Homo sapiens: one gene and its partners. The protein of the gene in region 3 purifies or fractionates together with the protein of the main gene of each other region. This does not show direct contact. Each region holds a gene or a part of one and is shown on either strand. Other genes may lie near its edges.

Region 1 (3,500 bases), on a different chromosome or scaffold from region 3:
ATCAGACAATGGCATTCTGCTGTGGTTATTCAGGCTGCATATAAAGGAATGAAAGCAAGACAACTTTTAAGGGAAAAACACAAAGCTTCTATCGTAATACAAAGCACCTACAGAATGTATAGGCAGTATTGTTTCTACCAAAAGCTTCAGTGGGCTACAAAAATCATACAAGAAAAATATAGAGCAAATAAAAAGAAACAGAAAGTATTTCAACACAATGAACTTAAGAAAGAGACTTGTGTTCAGGCAGGTTTTCAGGACATGAACATAAAAAAACAGATTCAGGAACAGCACCAGGCTGCCATTATTATTCAGAAGCATTGTAAAGCCTTTAAAATAAGGAAGCATTATCTCCACCTTAGAGCAACAGTAGTTTCTATTCAAAGAAGATACAGAAAACTAACTGCAGTGCGTACCCAAGCAGTTATTTGTATACAGTCTTATTACAGAGGCTTTAAAGTACGAAAGGATATTCAAAATATGCACCGGGCTGCCACACTAATTCAGTCATTCTATCGAATGCACAGGGCCAAAGTTGATTATGAAACAAAGAAAACTGCAATTGTGGTTATACAGAATTATTATAGGTTGTATGTTAGAGTAAAAACAGAAAGAAAAAACTTTTTAGCAGTTCAGAAATCTGTACGAACTATTCAGGCTGCTTTTAGAGGCATGAAAGTTAGACAAAAATTGAAAAATGTATCAGAGGAAAAGATGGCAGCCATTGTTAACCAATCTGCACTCTGCTGTTACAGAAGTAAAACTCAGTATGAAGCTGTTCAAAGTGAAGGTGTTATGATTCAAGAGTGGTATAAAGCTTCTGGCCTTGCTTGTTCACAGGAAGCAGAGTATCATTCTCAAAGTAGGGCTGCAGTAACAATTCAAAAAGCTTTTTGTAGAATGGTCACAAGAAAACTGGAAACACAGAAATGTGCTGCCCTACGGATTCAGTTCTTCCTTCAGATGGCTGTGTATCGGAGAAGATTTGTTCAGCAGAAAAGAGCTGCTATCACTTTACAGCATTATTTTAGGACGTGGCAAACCAGAAAACAGTTTTTACTATATAGAAAAGCAGCAGTGGTTTTACAAAATCACTACAGAGCATTTCTGTCTGCAAAACATCAAAGACAAGTCTATTTACAGATCAGAAGCAGTGTTATCATTATTCAAGCTAGAAGTAAAGGATTTATACAGAAACGGAAGTTTCAGGAAATTAAAAATAGCACCATAAAAATTCAGGTATTTCTATATTTAATTTAAATATAAAACTGTGAGTCTTTCTTTTGACCAATATTTGTTAGAATGTATAAAATGAGCTTAAGCAGGTCATAAAGAATAGTACTTAGTTGAGGTGACCATTTATCTTCCAAAGTGGAACATTTTTGAAAGAGGGAAAGGGCACTAGTAAGTCAGCCAAGACAGCACAGAACGGGGATTGTTCTGGCCATGGTCACCCTATGTGTGGTGCATTTCAGTATGGGTTAATTGTAGCACTCTTAGAAGAATTTTGAGAAAATAGGAGTCCTGTATTTGGCAAAGTTATTTCTTTAAGTGGAAAATATAAGCTAAGATAAAGTATTATTTGGCATAATATAGGCAAAATAGAGTAACTTTGTTCCTCTAATAATCTATTAACCAGAGCTGTTTGCTGCTTAGGCTAGTAGACATACTTTATTCTGAGTGTTTAGTACTTTGGCTTCCAAATCAATTTTGTATTATTTTGTTTTGTCTATTTGCCAAATGTGTGAGGAATGTACAGTATTATCTCTTTTAAAATATGAAGGAAGTGATAAAGTTTAAGTAATTTGGCCAATGTTGCATAGAGAGAGGCAGATCCAGGAACTGAATCTAAGTACTTCAGCTATTTCTTTTTACCTGCAATAACCCAGGCTTTAACCCAGATGTGATATGTTCATATCTTACTGGATTACTGTTAAATTTAGAAATAATGTTTTAATTCAAGAAATGTCAAGTGCTAGAAATGTGCCAAATGCTGTAGTGGGTGTTATAAATAGACAATGAGTAAGATATACTTAGTTGCTGTCCTCAAGGAACTTAATTGAACAAGGAAGTATAATTATAATACAACATGAGAAGTGTATGTTTCAGGAAACACAGAATGGGAAATCAAGCTAGTCTCCATGGTCAGAGACTTCCCAGAGTGAGTAACATTTAAGTTGAAATGTTACACTGAAGTATGAATTAGAAATAGCCCAGTAAAAGGTATAGAAGAATATTCCAATTGCAAGAGATAACGTGGAAAAATCAAAAAACTAGAAACAATAAAAAGTGATATGGGACCAGGTTGGCAATAGAGGGAGTAAGATTGTGGATAGATTTTTAAGACAGAAAAAATTTAGTCTTTATGCTCCAGACAAAACAAATTCTAGAGGAGTTTAAGCAGGAGAAGACCACAGTCATTTTTATTAAAAAAAAAAAAAAAATTACTCTGGCAGGAATGTGGAAGATGGACTGGAAAAGGAGCAAGACTAGAATCAGGTAGACCAAATGAAAATAGGCAGTAAGCCAGGTGAGAAAGAGTTATAGTTCAGTGTAGGTTTGTGACAATGGGATTGTAAGTTGGCATTATATAGAGCATGAACAAGGAGGCAAGCCATGTTGATGGCTTAAGTAACTCAGCAGAGTTACTCCCTCACACCCTGACATAGGGAATAAAGAGGGAAGAGCAGGTTTTGAGATTGATGATGAATTCAGTTTGGAGTATATAAGATCTGAAGTACCTAGCAGGTAACCCCCTTGAAATATCTAGTAAGGCAGTTGACTATGTTTGTCTGGAGTTCAGGAGAGTAGTGTGAGTATTAGAATTTGATTTGTACATTATGGGCATATGCTAATAATTAAAGTTCTGGGAATAATGAGATCACCAAGGAACAATACATAAAATGAGTGAACAAAGAGGGCCTGGGACTTGAGCCCTGAAGAACATCAAAATTCACAGACATTGACAAGAGAAGCCAACAAGGTGTTAAGAGGGAAAGAAGAAAGGTAAGAGATTAATGGTATCAAGAAACCAAGGTGTTAAGAGGGAAAGAAGAAAGGTAAGAGATTATGGTATCAAATTCCTAACACTACTGAGAAGTTCACAATTGAAAGGTGTTCATTGGATGTATTAGTTATGGTTTTATTCACTTAAAATGATTAAATAGCCAAAATAACAATCTTATAAAAATTTTTTTCTCTTACATAATTACATAATAAAATTGTATTTTACACATATAATTTTTAGCCTATGCCAGTGGTCTAAAACTTTACTGCATATTGGAGTCACCTGGAATTTTAAAACATACTCCTACCTTTAGATATTCTAATTGGTATGGGAAGCAACACAAGCGTGGGATTTGTTTCAAAGCTCCCAGGTGACTCTAATGAGCAGCGAAGTTTGGGAGCCACTGGGATATAGTATACATTACTAAATACTTACATATATATGTAAATATGTATGTTTTATATATATATATATATCAACTTCTCTGTAGCAT
Region 2 (2,371 bases), on a different chromosome or scaffold from region 3:
GAGTGCAGTGTTCTATGAATGTCATTTAAGCCAGGTATGTTAATTGTTATTCAAATTTTCTGCTTGTTGGCCAGGCACAGTGGCTCATGCCTGTAATCCCAGCACTTTGGGAGGCTGAGGCTGGCGGATCACCTTAGGCCAGGAGTTCGAGACCAGCCTGGCCAACACGGCGAAACCCCGTCTCTACTAAAAATACAAAAATTAGCAGGATGTGGCAGCGGGCGGCTGTAATCCCAGATACCCAGGAGGCTGAGGCAGGAGAATTGCTTAAACCTGTGAGGCAGATGTTGCAGTGAGCTGAGATTATGCCACTGCACTCCAGCTTGGGAAACAAGACCGAAACTCCAATTCCCAAAAACAAAACAAAACAAACCAACAAATTTTCTATTTGTTATATCTGCTTTTGAAATAAACATATGAAAATATTTTTCCAAAAATTAAATTCCATAATGTATCAGGAAAGAAAAATATAATTTCATTCTAAGGTTTCCTATTCCAAATTTTTTCTCTGAGTTTTTGAAAGCAACAACTTTGTATATCCCCCTTTTCCTAGCCTTTAAGCAGCAGGAACAATGAGCAGAGGAATAATATGTAGTTAGTAAGCAAGGCATGCTCTGAAGGCTACCAATGCTGCTCCTGTTCCACCAGTGAAACAGGCCACAGGCCCTCTAAGGCTCTTGAAAAAAGAACGTGGAAGCATAGGGCAGCTGTGTCCCACTGACAGCCAGGCATGGAAACAATCCTGGAGATGTGCTCCAAGCCTTGAACTTGAGGAAATGAACATCAAAGTTCGTAAGATGTTTCAAGCATTACCTTGTCACTATGGAAGTCTCTCCCTACACTGGCACTAAGTTCTGGCCAATATGGCCAGGAGTGAAGTTCTGTCCCAGTAAAACATACTTTTATCAGGTAAGGGGCATCATCCCCCTCCCAGCCTCCCAAACAGCTTTTGTACCTCAGATGGAGTCTCCCCAAAAAACATGTTCACAAAAGAACCACTACTGCCATCTTAGCAGGGCTGTGTGTGTGTGTGTGTGTGTGTTGTGTAGGTAGACAGAGGGGAGAAGCAGGCATGACAAGGATCACCTGACCAAAGTGCCTAGTTACCCATATACTGATAGAATAAAATCTCCAGTGTAAAGGAAAAATTATTTTTACAAAAACAGAAGCATGTTTTATTTCAATCCTGTTAAGGGAGAGGGATGGAAAACACAAAATAAGGGGAGGGGTCTCTTTATATAATACACACACCAGGATCAACTACAATGAATAATACCCATTCCATCCCTCCCCCACCAACTCCTATGTGGGTTCCAAGGCCAGCTGAGAATAGATGGGACAAGAATTAAGACACTTTGGCACAGTAACATGGCCAATGCACCGAAAGATGGAGAGAAGAGAATTTCCCAGGGAGCAAGGCCCTGGGCCTCAGCTGCTTCCCCAGTGGAGGGGTAATGAGAAAACTTTGGCTCAGCAGGAAGGCGGTTGTCAAAAATCTGGGTTACCTTAACTGGACTCTCCAGATCACAGACTACGGGCTGAATAGAGTCAAGATGTCTATCCAGTCCATTCTGTTCTCTGCTTTCTCTAAGATCACTTCTCTTCAGGCTTGCAATTATTGAGGGTTGGCCTGCTTCTCCTCTTCATCTTGGAAGGCAGGGGGAGTAAGTGCTTATTCTGCCCTTCCTATATCTAGGCCACTTAATTACTATTTTCTTGGCTCTAAAGAGACAGAAGCCAACTAACAAGTCCGGCTCTCTTTGTGAAAGTCGGCTTGAAAGAGCCCTTGTGTTGGCAAAACTGCCTCTGCAAATGGGTTTTTTTTTTTTTGAGCCTACCCCTTATAGACCCTCCCCAAGCTTGTTCAGACACCTCAATTGTGTGAGATGTGGGCAGAAAAGACTTGGTCCCTCTCCAGAGTTGGATTAAGCAATCCCATCTTTGACTGGAGATAGGGATGAGAAAGCAGGTGCTAGCAGGGGAAAGAACCGGGGAAAGCAAGGCAGTTTACACTAGGTTGCAGATTCAAGCCTATGGATTGTGAAGAGCCACCTAAGCTCCAGAGAAGAGGAAATCTCTGACACGATATGAACAAGTGAATATTTTAGCGGCAACCCTGTAATTCCCATAGACTAAAAGAGAATGGTCAAAAAAAAAAAAAAAAAAAAAAAAAAAAGACTGAGTGAGCAGAACCCAGCCCTCCATCTTCAATCTGAATAAAATTAACTCATACAGCTAATACTGCTCAAGTACAATCATGAAGACAGATGGAGCTGCTGAAATTCACACTAAAACAAAGAAAAGGATCAAGTGGACTGTCACCTTAATCCCAAGCACCTCCCTTTTAGAGTTATTGAGAAAATATCTTTGA
Region 3 (3,668 bases):
AATCGGCCTCTCTGTTCAGAGTGTCTAGCATGAAAAATCCATTTGGCTCTGGATGGGCCAAATATCCACTCCTGCTCCAATCATCTAAGGCCTAGATGCGAGTAGAGGGTGGGGTGTTATACACATGGTTGCCTCTTTTACCAGACACTAGGGCAGGGAGAGAGCGAGCGAGACATACACAAATAAAAGCTGCAGCACTTCTGGGGTATTGAGTGCAAGTGCTCTGGAATACAAAGGGGGTCACCAAAACATGTCTGTCTCCATGTGTCTCTCTCTCCCCACCCCAATCTATACCTCCCCTGGCCACCACCCCACTTCTACACCTCTTTCACAACCCCTACTTTCCTCCCCCTCCTCCAGTCACCACCCCTATCTCTGAAGTTATTCGTAAAGGTACCATTGTCTCACCTCCTTCCCCCACTCTTCCCAGCCTTCTTCCCCTACCACCCCGGCCCCCGCCACCACAAGCCTGCCCTCTGAAAATTAATTCGCCATCGAGATATACATGCTTCGGTTCTATTTTGCATTTCTGCACTCAATGAGGTTTTTGCAGCCAGATTCCCTTCCCACAGTCGAAGCAAGTATCCCTCCGTGAAAAATTCACAGCGTTACACCAAGGGCAGTCCCAGTCCCCTGGCCTGCGATATACTGGAGGTCTTTGCTGATGAGGTTCGGAGTATCTCCTGTCTCTTGGGTGCTCCTGATGGTCTATTCTGTGGGGCCCCCCATCAGACCACAGGCTAGTATCAAAGGCCTCCCAGTCGGAAGGCAGCTGAGGCGGAACTGGTGCTGTGACTGTTGCTTGTGGAGGGGATATAGTGGGTATGTCTGAGAAGGAGGAAAAAGGGCTTGAGTATGAGTATGAGTATGAGGCAGGGAGCTGGACAGGAAGAGGTTCTGATGAGGCTCTGGACCAGGGGTTCGTGGTTCCAGAGAAATAAGATGTGGCTGTTTCGACCGACCGGAGATCTCCCTCCTTCTGCCCCCAATAGGTGTACTTTTCCTGATCAGCATCTCCAAGGAGCTGCAGGAGGATTCTCTCCAGCTTCTCTGTGGTCTCCATGGAGGCAGCCCTGGCCTCCACGTGGGGGAACTGGGTCTCCATGGGGGCAGCCCCAGCCTCCACAGGGGGAGCCATGGCCTCCACAGGGGCAGCCACAACCTCCACATCCCTCTGCTCTTCTTCTGCTCCTTTTCCTCCAGCAGCACCAGCAGCAGCCACCGCCGCCTCTTCTTCCTCCTCAGCTGCTCCTTCTGTGCAAACCCCTCCGGCAGTGGCCAGGCCTGGCCACCCTGCCCCCTGCTCCCACTCATGGGGAGACACCAGCTCCTGGAGAGAAGTGGGCAGGGCTGAGGTGTGTTCTGGGGGCAAGGCGGGAGCACTAAGCAGGGTAGGACGGAGCTACCAGGTGGGAAGGGCGGGGCAGGGCGAAGCCATGGAGCAGGGTGGAGAGGGGTGGGAATGGGGCAGGGCAGTGGTACTGGGCAGGGACCAGTTGAGGGATCTTACTGCATGGAGCGGCTTCCAACTCACCTTGTCTCTCTCTTTCTGCACCTCCACGAGGCTGGTCTGGGCCATTCTTAGCCGGGAGGCCGCCTCCTTGCGTTCCGTCTCCTGCTGCTCCCTGAGCTTCTTCAGGTCTGATGCCAAGGCCTGTGCGGCTGATTTGTGCAGTTTGGCGAAGCCGTGCAGCCACCGCACCCTGTGCCTTTGTAGCTGTGCCTGCCTGTGGGCAAAGCGCACTCCCAAGGCCAGGCTGCCCCAGGTGCAGGCCTCTTTGACCTCACTGGGCACCTCGCTGTCCTCCAGTATGGCCCTCAGCTTGTCTTCCACCTTCTCCCAGGATAAGGATATATTCTCAAGATAGAACTCGGGGCCTTTCGTGTGCCTGGCCATTTTCTCGTTGATGAAGGCCACCACGTTGCTATGCCGGAACCCGCTACTGGGGTCCTCAGGTCTCAAGGCCATGATCGCCTAGGGGTTTAACGGTTTCACTAGCCCTGTGTGGATGGAGCAGCCAATAGGTTCCTTTCCTCCCCCTTAGCCCCTCCCCTCATCCATCTTCTCCCGCCCTCTTGTCCCCGCCCTACCCGCTCTGACAAGACCGTCCTAATGACCCCCTGACCGGCTTGTCCTACCCTAGGACACCTCCCACCAGGCCTCACCTCTTCAGCCAGGGCCAGAGGAAGTACAGGCCAACCCCGCTGTCTTAACACGCCCGAAGAGAGAGGAAGATCTCTCTCCCTCCTAAGGTTCCAGGGAAAGGAAGACTCAGGGCCAACGTCGGCTTTTACTCTGGGACTGTTCCAATTTCCAGAGATACCAGGAGTGGAAGGGAGTGAGTGAGGAAGGCCCCTGCCACTCCATTGGGATTTAAGGGAACCTGTCACATGGTTGGGAGCCCTTAAAGGTCGGAAGAAACAGGAGTGGTCAGAAAAGACTTAGAACCAAGAAAATTAAGCCCTTATAATCAAGTCAAAAAAGTCCCATGTATCCCTCCCTCTTGACAATGGTTTGTCCCATGCCAACGGCTAGTAGGGACCCCCCTAGAGGTTGAAGGGGGAATAATGGGTATGTTCTAGAACACGAAAAAGCCCCCAACCCATGAAAATTCTGCAGTTCATTTTCCAGACTCCTAAATCCTAGTATACAGGTTAGTGACCTTTTTCTGAAACGGGCAAGATAGCAGGCATTTGAGGCTTTGTGGGCAAAAGATTATCCCAACTACTTGTAGCACAAAAGCAGCCATAAATAATACCTGAAGAAATGACCATGGCCATGTTCTAATAAAAGTTCATTTATAAAACCAGGCAGTTGGCATGATTTGGCCTGTAGATGTCAAACTCCCAATCTAGATTCACATTTCATACATGTCCTACAGACACATACAATCAGAATGTTCATGATATGACTCCCCCTTTTCCCTGTTAAAAGAAAAACGTTAGACAACGTTAACAGTTTGTTTACACATAAACAACAACCAAAAAAAAAAAAAAAGAAAAACGAGTCATGAATTTGTCAGTACTCAGAACCAGAAGAGTTTCAGAGAGCTATTCCCAGCAACATGAGAAGTGAATTTTTATAGGCTGAGTTTGGACACAAAAGAGAAAAATCACCTGATTGGCTACAGCAAGGCATTTGCCTTATTTGGACATGGTCTTGTCACTTGACTGCCTGTAATTAGCTGGAGCCTGGCTAGTTGTGTTTGGCTGAAATTAGGCTGTCTTTTATACAGCTTATGTTAAGTTTCAGTCTGTTTACATGCTAAGTTAGTTTGCGGTTTGTTAGATAGGAACTCAAAGTATGGAAACAGCTTCAAACTAATGGCCTCTTGCTTATTTTAATATATGCAGGAGATGATTCCCCTCCTAAATTCCTATGTTGTCCAATACAGAAACCTCAAAATCAAATTTTTAAGTTACCTACCCTTCATACCGACCCTTAAAAACAAGTCAACTAAGAGACAAAATCTTGTTGCTGTGACCTCAGAAACTTCTAAGACATCCATGCCCACTTAGGGAATGTCCATGTTTCTTCTCAAATAATCTTCCTGTCTTTAATTTCTTCATAATCCCTAATCACTTCCTAATCTTTCCTATGATCATGTTTCTCTTAAGCTTAAAATCATTTGATGGATCCTTGTGGCACACTCCTTGTCCTGACATTA
Region 4 (2,749 bases), on a different chromosome or scaffold from region 3:
TCAAGTACCCTTACAAGACTGATGGAATTACAGTTGTATAAATATGGACTACTGAAGAATCTGAAGTATTGTATTATTTGACTTTATTTTAGGCCTCTAGTAAAGACTTAAATGTTTTTTAAAAAAAGCACAAGGCACAGAGATTAGAGCAGCTGTAAGAACACATCTACTTTATGCAATGGCATTAGACATGTAAGTCAGATGTCATGTCAAAATTAGTACGAGCCAAATTCTTTGTTAAAAAACCCTATGTATAGTGACACTGATAGTTAAAAGATGTTTTATTATATTTTCAATAACTACCACTAACAAATTTTTAACTTTTCATATGCATATTCTGATATGTGGTCTTTTAGGAAAAGTATGGTTAATAGTTGATTTTTCAAAGGAAATTTTAAAATTCTTACGTTCTGTTTAATGTTTTTGCTATTTAGTTAAATACATTGAAGGGAAATACCCGTTCTTTTCCCCTTTTATGCACACAACAGAAACACGCGTTGTCATGCCTCAAACTATTTTTTATTTGCAACTACATGATTTCACACAATTCTCTTAAACAACGACATAAAATAGATTTCCTTGTATATAAATAACTTACATACGCTCCATAAAGTAAATTCTCAAAGGTGCTAGAACAAATCGTCCACTTCTACAGTGTTCTCGTATCCAACAGAGTTGATGCACAATATATAAATACTCAAGTCCAATATTAAAAACTTAGGCACTTGACTAACTTTAATAAAATTTCTCAAACTATATCAATATCTAAAGTGCATATATTTTTTAAGAAAGATTATTCTCAATAACTTCTATAAAAATAAGTTTGATGGTTTGGCCCATCTAACTTCACTACTATTAGTAAGAACTTTTAACTTTTAATGTGTAGTAAGGTTTATTCTACCTTTTTCTCAACATGACACCAACACAATCAAAAACGAAGTTAGTGAGGTGCTAACATGTGAGGATTAATCCAGTGATTCCGGTCACAATGCATTCCAGGAGGAGGTACCCATGTCACTGGAATTGGGCGATATGGTTTATTTTTTCTTCCCTGATTTGGATAACCAAATGGAACAGGAGGAGGATAGTGATTCTGATGGCCATTCCCTCGATACATTCCTGGCTTTTTTCTGGGCAAAGGGTGCCACATTGGAAGAGGTGGAAATATAAGTTCTGAAATCTGTAGGGAAGAGAACACATTAAGTTAATTCAAAGGAAAAAATCATCATCTATGTTCCAGATTTCTCATTAAAGACAAACAAAGTTACCCACAACACTGAGATCACATCTAAGTGACACTCCTATTGTCAGGTCTAAATACATTAAAAACCTCATGTGTAATAGGCGTATAATGTATAACAGGTGACCAATGTTTTCTGAATGCATAAAGAAATGAATAAACTCAAACACAGTACTTCCTAAACAACTTCAACCAAAAAAGACCAAAACATGGAACGAATGGAAGCTTGTAAGGACATGCTTGTTTTAGTCCAGTGGTTTCCACAGCTGGCTAAGCCAGGAGTCACTTGGAGGCTTTTAAATACAAAACATTGGAGCTGGAGGCCATTATCCTTAGCAAACTAATGCAGAAACAGAAAATCAACTACCGCATGTTCTCACTTATAAGTGGGAGGTAATGATAAGAACTTATGAACACAAAGAAGGAAACAATAGACATTGGAGTCTATTTGAGAGGGGAGGGTGGGAGAAGGAAAAGGAGCAGAAAAGATAACTATTGAGTACTGGGCTTCACACCTGGGTGATGAAATAATATGTACAACAAATCCCTGTGACACATGTTTACCTATGGAACAAACCTTCATGTGTATCCCTAAACCTAAAATAAAAGTTAAAAAAAAAAAAAGATAAACACAAAACATTCATGCCCTAGCACTGGTCTAATGAACAATAATAAAATCTCAGAACTAGAGGCCAGGTATTTTGACAAAGCTCCCCAGGTGATTCTGATGTAGCCAGTTTAGTATTTGGGAATAATAGTTTTAGATTATCCCATAAATCAGGTGGGCACGTCAGGTTCACATTATTCAAAGTGTTCTTATCAGCAGTTTTAGACCTCTCTGCTTAGAATGCCACATCTTCTTAAATTTCTGATTTTGCTGATCTCAAATCTGCATTTCTAAGTATAGGATTTTTTTAAAAAAATTATATTGTGTATAGCATTGCATTCATGATAGAAAATTCAAAAAGTACAAAAGGGTAAACTGTGGAAAGTCCCTCTTTTTTTATCTCACCCTTTATCTTCTTTATCTTAACCCTTCTCAAGGGCAACTGACACCAAACATTTTTTTAAATATACCTTTAGAGATATTCTATCCACATCTATACACACTTTAAAAATATATATGTATACTGGATTGTATCCTGCTTTTTACATTTCATAATAATACATTTCAGAAACATATCAATACATAAAGATCCTTCTCATTTTTCTACAGCTAGATAGTATAGCAATGACTATAAATTAAATGGTCTCCTAGTAATGGGACATTGAGGCTGTTTTCAGTCTCTTACTATTAAAAAAACAATGATACACAACGAACAAAACAATGCTGCAATGAATAACAGCACAGTTAATTCTAATAGAAGGCTTTATAGGCATATTTTCGTTTCTTTTGGTAAATATTTAATACTTAGGAGTGGAACTGCTGAGTAATAGAAGAGTTACACATTTAACGTTAAAAAGTTCCAGTTTTCCAAAGTAGTGGTACTATTTTACATGACTAGCAAG

The links.
Region 1: the proteins of TEX13A (region 3) and ASPM purify together in Homo sapiens (affinity purification with mass spectrometry; 2 studies listed by BioGRID and IntAct, with this or other methods). This does not show direct contact.
Region 2: the proteins of TEX13A (region 3) and CNOT9 purify together in Homo sapiens (affinity purification with mass spectrometry; 2 studies listed by BioGRID and IntAct, with this or other methods). This does not show direct contact.
Region 4: the proteins of TEX13A (region 3) and BTG3 purify together in Homo sapiens (affinity purification with mass spectrometry; 2 studies listed by BioGRID and IntAct, with this or other methods). This does not show direct contact.

Annotation. Positions count from the first base shown.
Region 1 is NC_000001.11:197,098,170-197,101,669, reverse strand, and holds part of ASPM (abnormal spindle-like microcephaly-associated protein), read left to right. Parts: coding exon 1-1,239; intron 1,240-3,500. UniProt on the Homo sapiens protein: Involved in mitotic spindle regulation and coordination of mitotic processes.
Region 2 is NC_000002.12:218,595,210-218,597,580, reverse strand, and holds the end of CNOT9 (CCR4-NOT transcription complex subunit 9), read right to left. Parts: 3' UTR 501-2,371; downstream 1-500. UniProt on the Homo sapiens protein: Component of the CCR4-NOT complex which is one of the major cellular mRNA deadenylases and is linked to various cellular processes including bulk mRNA degradation, miRNA-mediated repression, translational repression during translational initiation and general transcription regulation.
Region 3 is NC_000023.11:105,218,429-105,222,096, forward strand, and holds TEX13A (testis-expressed protein 13A), read right to left. Parts: upstream 2,267-3,668; 5' UTR 2,167-2,266; intron 2,002-2,166; 5' UTR 1,970-2,001; coding exon 1,535-1,969; intron 1,331-1,534; coding exon 536-1,330; 3' UTR 501-535; downstream 1-500. UniProt on the Homo sapiens protein: Binds to ssRNA containing the consensus sequence 5'-AGGUAA-3'. Plays a role in transcriptional repression. Required for rapid sperm motility and timely degradation of mRNA via its interaction with CNOT1.
Region 4 is NC_000021.9:17,593,153-17,595,901, forward strand, and holds the end of BTG3 (protein BTG3), read right to left. Parts: intron 1,181-2,749; coding exon 941-1,180; 3' UTR 501-940; downstream 1-500. UniProt on the Homo sapiens protein: Overexpression impairs serum-induced cell cycle progression from the G0/G1 to S phase.